2 linked regions of the Homo sapiens genome follow. The protein of the gene in region 1 purifies or fractionates together with the protein of each later gene. This does not show direct contact. Each region holds a gene or a part of one and is shown on either strand. Other genes may lie near its edges.

Region 1 (3,747 bases):
CCCTGGGTGACAGAATGAGTCTGTCGGTCTCACAAGAACAAAACAAACAAAAAACAAAAACCACCACCAAAAACAAAACAAAACAAAAACAAAAACTCCCTCCGCAGGCAGGAGATGTAAACACGCCAGCTCCCCAGCCCCACCTGTGATACCTACTGGCCCACATCCCTATTAGGACTCCCTGGTTCTCCCCAGTTCCTGCAATAAAATACAGAGCAAAATAGTGTGAAATTGATTAAACTCTACTGTTATCACTTCTGCCATATGTGACTGGCTCAAAACTCAATGGATCTGACTCAGCAAAAGACAAAGTCAAAATTTAAAGTTACTGCCTCGGCATTTTGCAAATGTCCTAGAAAAAAATTCAACGTCCTAGAAAAAGGTGAAAGCTAGCAAGATACTCTCAACGCTGTAGGAGTTGAGAAAGGGAGATATGTAACCTAAAATCAATGCATAGGGCTGGGCTTCATTTGCACCCACAAATTCCCAGCATACGCCTGCTATTTTTATTTTTATCCTCATTAGGTTTTAAGCTTCCCTGCTGCTTTCAGAGTCTTAAGCCCAAGTCTAATTTTTTAACGGATGAAGAATGCTGTTTAAAGGTGCTCAAATACCTTGGTTGGATAGTATGCTCAATCCTTATACCTTGGTTGATTCAATTTTGACAAATGCTTCCATTTACTAGTTGGTGACCCAACTTTAATCTTACTAGTGGCTTGACTAGGGTAGCTAGTATGACTTTGAACGCTATATTGAATTTAATGTGGCAACTGTAATGAGCATTTTACGTTATCTCACAACAAAATGGGGTAGATATGGTTCTATTTTATAAGTGACTGGACTAAGGTTAACCTGTCGGTCACACAGCTTGTCGGCAACAGACTTGAGTTTGGATCCTAGTCTGTTTATTTCCAAAGCGCTGTTATTTATCGGGAGCAACCCTAGGAGAATGCCTAGACACACACCCAAAAAAGCAGCCAGGCAGCAGAACGCGGGGTCACACTTCGACCCCTCAGAGAACGATCGCTCCCAATCAATACTACGTGCTCAGGAGCTACAACTGAAGAAGCGTGATCACGGCCTTGGCATTTAGGGCAGGCACCAGCGCATCTATGGACCGCGCACAAATTCCGGGGATGCCGAATTTGGGGGATGCTAAGGGGAGAGAGTGGGTCTCTAGCAGCGATTGGGGGCTCAGGAGCAGTTAGTGACAAATGAGCACCCGAAAAGTGAAAAGGTGACAGCAGTCCGCAGGTGCATCTACTGGCGAGCCTTCTCCATCCCCGAACCCAACCCTCCCCCGGGAGAAGGTCGCGCCAGGAGAGAAGCCGCGCGGCGCTTAGGGCAAGGTGCAGAGGGCGGCGCGGCGGTGCAGCGAGAAAGACGCGGAGAGAGGGCGCTGCTCTGTGGCTCTGCAACCTTCCGCCAGCTCCCACGCTTTCCCCGCGCGTCCCCGGCGCCTCCTCGCTCCTCTTGCTTCCCCGCGACCCCTGCGTTCCCGTGCGCGCGCGCCCGCTTGCCTGTTTCCTGTCGCCGTCGTTGCCCGGGCCATGGCGACCTGCATTTGGCTGCGGAGCTGTGGGGCCCGGCGCCTCGGGTCGACGTTTCCAGGCTGCCGCCTCCGCCCCCGCGCCGGCGGCCTGGTCCCTGCCTCCGGGCCTGCGCCCGGCCCGGCCCAGCTCCGCTGCTACGCTGGGCGCCTGGCGGGCCTCTCTGCGGCGCTGCTGCGCACCGACAGCTTCGTGGGCGGCCGCTGGCTCCCGGCCGCCGCCACCTTCCCCGTGCAAGACCCGGCCAGCGGCGCCGCTCTGGGCATGGTAGCCGACTGCGGGGTGCGAGAGGCCCGCGCCGCCGTGCGCGCTGCCTACGAGGCTTTCTGCCGCTGGAGGGAGGTCTCCGCCAAGGTGAGAGAGCCCGGATGCAGGGGGCCAGAGCTGGCCGGGGACACGGCGGGGAGCAGAGGGGGCTTTACCCCAAAGTGACACCAGCCGCGTCGCCTCCCTCCTGTGCTCAGTTCCCCAGGGTATACAAAGTGGAAAGTCAGAGCAACAAGGGAGACGACCGACAAATAAGTTTGGAGCTTCCACTTTGAGCCGGGCACTAGGGACACGACCCCTGCCCTCAAGCCTCATCAAGTTATGCACTGCCCAGTAGGGGAGGCAGAACGTGAGCGCCTAATACAAGCGAGCTGCTTGTTATGGTCAACAAGCCTAACCGTGGAGGGGCGGGGAGAAAGGGGAGGGGTGTCAGGGAAGTGAGAGCACGTGTGGCCCTTCAGAGTAGCTGAAATATCTCCGCAGCTGCAGGGAGCCCACGCAGGAGGCTGCTTCAGCGGCCCTTGAGAAGGCTGGTAGTGAGGGCCCCTGGCCAGAATCATGGGATCGGAAACGGAGAGAACTGTAGAAAGATTTGGGTTTTGTGCAGGGGAAGAGAGAAATCCAGGAGCGTTCTCCAGGTTTTCACCCTAAATGGATAAATGCTGCTATTGGCCATTGCATAGAGAACACTGGAGAATTGGGAGTAAGGGGTGGAGGGCCATTAAATGGGAAGAATAGAGTAAGAAGAAAACTAAGAAAGTAGTTTCTTCCTTCTAATATTATATTATTAAACCTGGAGTCAACGCAGTGAAATTTTTTACCGTGTCCTTCAAAGCTCTCCCTCTGAAGGAATGCATCCAGCGATCCCTACGAGTACAAGAGAGTCTTAGCACTCATTCATCCATCAGCTGTTTACTGAGCACCTGCTGTATGCCCTGCACTGTTGGAGGTGCTTGGGATACCTCAGTTAAACGAAAGAAGGATTCTGCCCTTATGGAGCTCACATGGGGTGGAAGGGGAGCAGAAGAGAGATCAGAACTCTAAACAACAAACATAATATCTAAGCAAATAAGTATGTGAGAGATGCTGAGTGCAATATGGAAAAAAGGTAGAAGCAGGAGAGGATCCGGGCCAGAGGGAAGGGGCAAGATGCAGCATCAACAGTGTGACCAGGCATATTCCTCTGCTAGGGCTGCCATAGCAAAGTACCACAGACTGGGTGGCCTGAACAACAGACATTTCTCATTTTACCGCTCTGGAGGGTAGAAATCCCAGATCGAGGTGTTGTCAGAGTTGGTTTCTTCTAAGGCCTCTCATTGGCTTGCAGAGAGCTCAGCTTTTGTCTTTGTATCTCATCAGACCTCAATTTTAGACTCATGGAGTCTGAGATGTCTGTTCACGCCCAAGTGAGGATGTAAAGTAAGCAGTTGGTTATATGAATGAATCTTCCCTGTGTGTCTCCACATGGTCTTTCCTCTGTGTGTATATGTGTCCTAATCTCTTCTTCTTTTAAAAACAGGAGTCAGATTGGATTGGGGCCCACCAGAATGACCTCATCATAACTTAATTCCCTTTTTAAAGACCCTATTTCCAAATGCACTCACATTCTGAGATACTGGGGGGTTAGGACTTCGACATGTCAATTTTGCCAGGAGCACCATTCAGCCCGTAACATCAGGGTAGGTCTCATTGAGGACATGAGATACAAAGACCAAAGGAGGTAAGTGTGTCCGGAGTTGGTTCCTGCCGGTAGGTTTGTGGCCTCGCTGACTTCAAAAATGGAGCCGCGGACCTTTGCAGTGAGTGTTACAGCTCTTAAAGATGGCATGGACCCAAAGAATGAGTGGTAGCAACATTTATTGTGAAGAGCAAAAGAAGAAAGCTTCCACAGCGCGGAAGGGGACCCGAGTGGGTTGTCGCTGCTGGGTGG
Region 2 (3,647 bases), on another chromosome or scaffold:
CTACAGGACCCATGAAAGTTCAAAACTCAGCAGGGCAGCCACTAAATCTTAAAGCTCCAAAATAATACCCTTTGACTCCATGTCCCACATCTAGGGCACACTGGTGCAAGGAATGGGCTCCCAAGGCCTTAGGCAGCTCTGTCCCTGTGGCTTTGCAGGGGCTCCTGAGGTTGCTCTCATGGGATGGCTTTGAGTGCCTATAGCTTTTGCAGGTGCAGGGTGCAAGCTGCCAGTGAATCTATCATTCTTGGGTCTGCAGGATGGTGGTTCTCTTCCCACAGCTCCTAGGCAGTGCCCCAGTGGGGACTTTGTGAGGGGGCTTCAATCCCACATTTCCCCTCTGCACTGTCATAGTAGAGGTTCTCCATGAGGGTTTCTACCCTGCAACAGACTTCTGCCTAGACACCCAGGCTTTTCCATACATTCTCTGAAATCTAGGTGGAGAATCCCAAGCCTCAACCCTTGCACTCTGTGCACTCACAGGCTTAATAACACATGGAAGCCACAAAGGCTCATGGCTTGCACCCTCTGGAGCTGTGGCCCAAGCTGTACCTGGGCCCTTTTGATCTGAGGCCAGAACCCTAGCAGAACCCGAGCAGCTGGGATGCAGGGAGCAGTGTCCTGAGGCTCTGTAGGGCAGAGGGGCTCTGGGCCTGACCCATGAAACCATTCTCTCCTTTTAGACCTCTGGCTCTGTGATGGGAGGGGCTGCTGAAAGGTCTCTGAAATGCCTCTGAGGTTTTTTCCCCATTGCCTTGGCTGTGTTTGAAGTTATGCTGATTTCTCTAGGAAGAGGTCTCTGAAATGCCTTTGAGGTTTTTTCCCCATTGTCTTGGCTGTCAGCCCTTGGCTTCTTTGTAGTTATGTGAATTTCTCTAGGAAGTCGTTGCTCTACAAGCCTGCTTGAAATCCTCTCTCAAAAACTTTTTCTTTCTTTGCCATGTGGCCAAGTTGCAAATTTTCCAAACTTTTCTGCTCTGCTTCCCTTTTAAATATAAGTTCCAACTTCAGGTCATTCCTTTGCCCTTGCATCTGCGCATAGGCTGTTAGAAACAGGCAGGAAACATCTTGAACACTTTGGTGCTTAGAAATTTCTTCTACCATATACCCTAGGCATCACTCTCAAGTTCAAACTTCCGCAGATCCCTAGGGCATGTACAGAATGCAGCCAAGTTCTTTGCTGAGGCAAACGTGTGATGTTTGTTCCAGTTCCCGATAAATTCCTCATTTCCATCTGAGACCTCATTAGCCTGGACTTTATTGTCTGTATGACTATCAGCATTTTGGTCACAATGAGTTAACCAGTCTCTAAAAAGTTCCAAACTTTCCCTCATCTTCCTGTCTCCTTCTGAGCCTTCTACACACTTCTAGTCTCTGCGTGTTACTCAATTCCAAAGCTGCTTCCATATTTTCAGGTATCTTTATAGCAATGCCCCACTCCTTGGTACCATTTTTTCTGTATTAGGTTGTTCTTGCATTGCTATAAAGAAATATCTGAGACTGTGTAATTTATAAGAAAATTTATAATCTGCAGGCTCTACAGGAAGCATGTGCTTCCTGTCACCACCATCTGCTTCTGGGGAGGCCTCAGGAAGCTTACAGTCATGGCAGAAGGCAAAGAGGGAGCAGGCATCTTACATAACAGGAGTGGGAATGAAAGAGAGAGCAAGGTGCCACACTGTTTTAAATGACCAGATCTCACAAGAAGTTACTGTGTAATTTAGAAGTAAATTATAAGAAAAAGGTTTAATTGCATCTCAGTTCTTCAGGCTGTACAGGAAACATCTGCTTCCTGGCACCACCATCTGCTTCTAGAGAGGCCTCAGGAAGCTTACAGTCATGGCAGAAGGCAAAGTGGGAGCAGGCATCTCACATAACAGGAATGGGAACAAGAGAGAGAATGAAGTGCCACCCAGTTTTAAATAGCCAGATCTTGTGAGAAGTCACTCACTGTGGTGAAGACAGCACCAAGGGAGTGGCGCTGAACCATTCATGAGAAATCCATTCCCGTGATCCAGTCACCTCCCACCAGGCCCCATCTCCAACACTGAGAATTACGATTTAACATGAGATTTGGTTGGGGACATATTGCCAAACTATATCAATGTTTTAGTTTGGATTTCATATCAGAGTAATTCTGATCTCATAAAATGAGCTGGAAAGTAGTCCCTCCTGTTCAGTTTCTTGGAAGAGTATGTGTAGATAGTATTATTCTTTCCTTATGTTTGGAGATTCACCAGTGAAGCCATCTGGCCTTGTAGTTTTCTTTGTGGGAAGGTTTTTAACTGTGAGTTCAACTTCTTTACTAGATGTAGGGCTATTCAGGTAACCCATTTTTTCTTGAATGAGCATTATTTGTTTGTTTCTCTCAAGGCATTTGTCCATTTCATTTGAGTTGTCAAATTTATTGCCATAAAAATATTTGGAATATTTTCTATTATCCTTTTAATATCTGTAGAGTATGTAGTGCTGTCTTCTCTCATTCCTGATACTGATAATTTGTGTTTTTTCTCCCTTTCCTGAGTCTGGATAGAGGCTTATCAATTGTATTGATCCTCTCAAAAAACTTTAGGTTTCATTGATTTTTCTCTTTTTCTATTTTTTGTTTCATTGGATTCTGCTCTGACATTTATAATTTGTCTTCTTTTACATGTTTTAATTTGCTCTTTTTTCTAAGTTCCCTAGTTGGAAGCTGAAGTCACTGATTTGAGTTCTTTCTTTGTCATTATTATTATTATTATTCTAGAAACAGACATTATTATTATTATTACTTTGCTCTGCCACCCAGGCTAAAGTGCAGTGGTGCAATCATAGCTCACTGCAGTCTTGAATGCCTAGGCTTAAGCAGTCCTCCCACTTCGGCCTCCTGAGTAGCTAGGACTACAGGTATGTGCCACCATGCCAGGCTAATTTTTTTTTTTTTTTTTTTTTTGAGACAGAGTTCCGCTCTTGTTGCCCAGGCTGGAGTGCAATGGCACAATCTCGGCTCTCCGCAACCTCCGCCTCCTGGGTTCAAGCAATTCTCCTGCCTCAGCCTCCTGAGTAGCTGGGATTACAGACATACGCCACCATGTCCAGCTAATTTTGTATTTTTAGTAGATACGGGGTTTCTCCATGTTGGTCAGGCTGGTCTCAAACTCCTGATCTCAGGTGATCCTCCTGTCTTGGCCTCCCAAAGTGCTGGGATTACAGGCATGAGCCACCGCACCCGGCCTGCCTAATTTTTTTTTTTTTTTAATTTTTTGTAGCGTTGGAATCTCACCAGGTTGTTCAGGTTGGTCTTGAACTCCTGGCCTCAAGTGATCCTCCCTCCTCGGCCTCGCAGAGTGTTGTTTTTCTTTCCTTAGTACGGGGGTTTAGTGCTGTAAATTTTCCCCAGAGTACTGCTTTAGTGGCTTCACACAACTTTTGATAATTTCGATATACTTTTTATTTTCATTTCATTTTAAATACATTCTAATTAATTTACTTTTTAATTTTATCTTTGACTTGTGTGGATGTTTTGTTTTGTTTTTAGATATTTGTTAGTTTCCAATTATTTGAGGATTTTTCTAGATTTTTTTATTTGTTTCTAATTTATTTCTGGTGTAGTCAGAGAATAAACTTTGTATAATTTGAGTCTTCGTAAATATATTGAGACTTGTTTT

The links. The genes of interacting proteins can lie anywhere in the genome.
Region 2: the proteins of ALDH5A1 (region 1) and ADI1 fractionate together in Homo sapiens (co-fractionation; one large-scale study listed by BioGRID). This does not show direct contact.

Annotation. Positions count from the first base shown.
Region 1 is NC_000006.12:24,493,447-24,497,193, forward strand, and holds the start of ALDH5A1 (succinate-semialdehyde dehydrogenase, mitochondrial isoform 2 precursor), read left to right. Parts: upstream 1-1,550; coding exon 1,551-1,904; intron 1,905-3,747. Other genes in the region: GPLD1 (phosphatidylinositol-glycan-specific phospholipase D), read right to left, coding at 1,521-1,564. UniProt on the Homo sapiens protein: Catalyzes one step in the degradation of the inhibitory neurotransmitter gamma-aminobutyric acid (GABA).
Region 2 is NC_000002.12:3,509,429-3,513,075, reverse strand, and holds part of ADI1 (acireductone dioxygenase), read left to right. Parts: intron 1-3,647. UniProt on the Homo sapiens protein: Catalyzes 2 different reactions between oxygen and the acireductone 1,2-dihydroxy-3-keto-5-methylthiopentene (DHK-MTPene) depending upon the metal bound in the active site.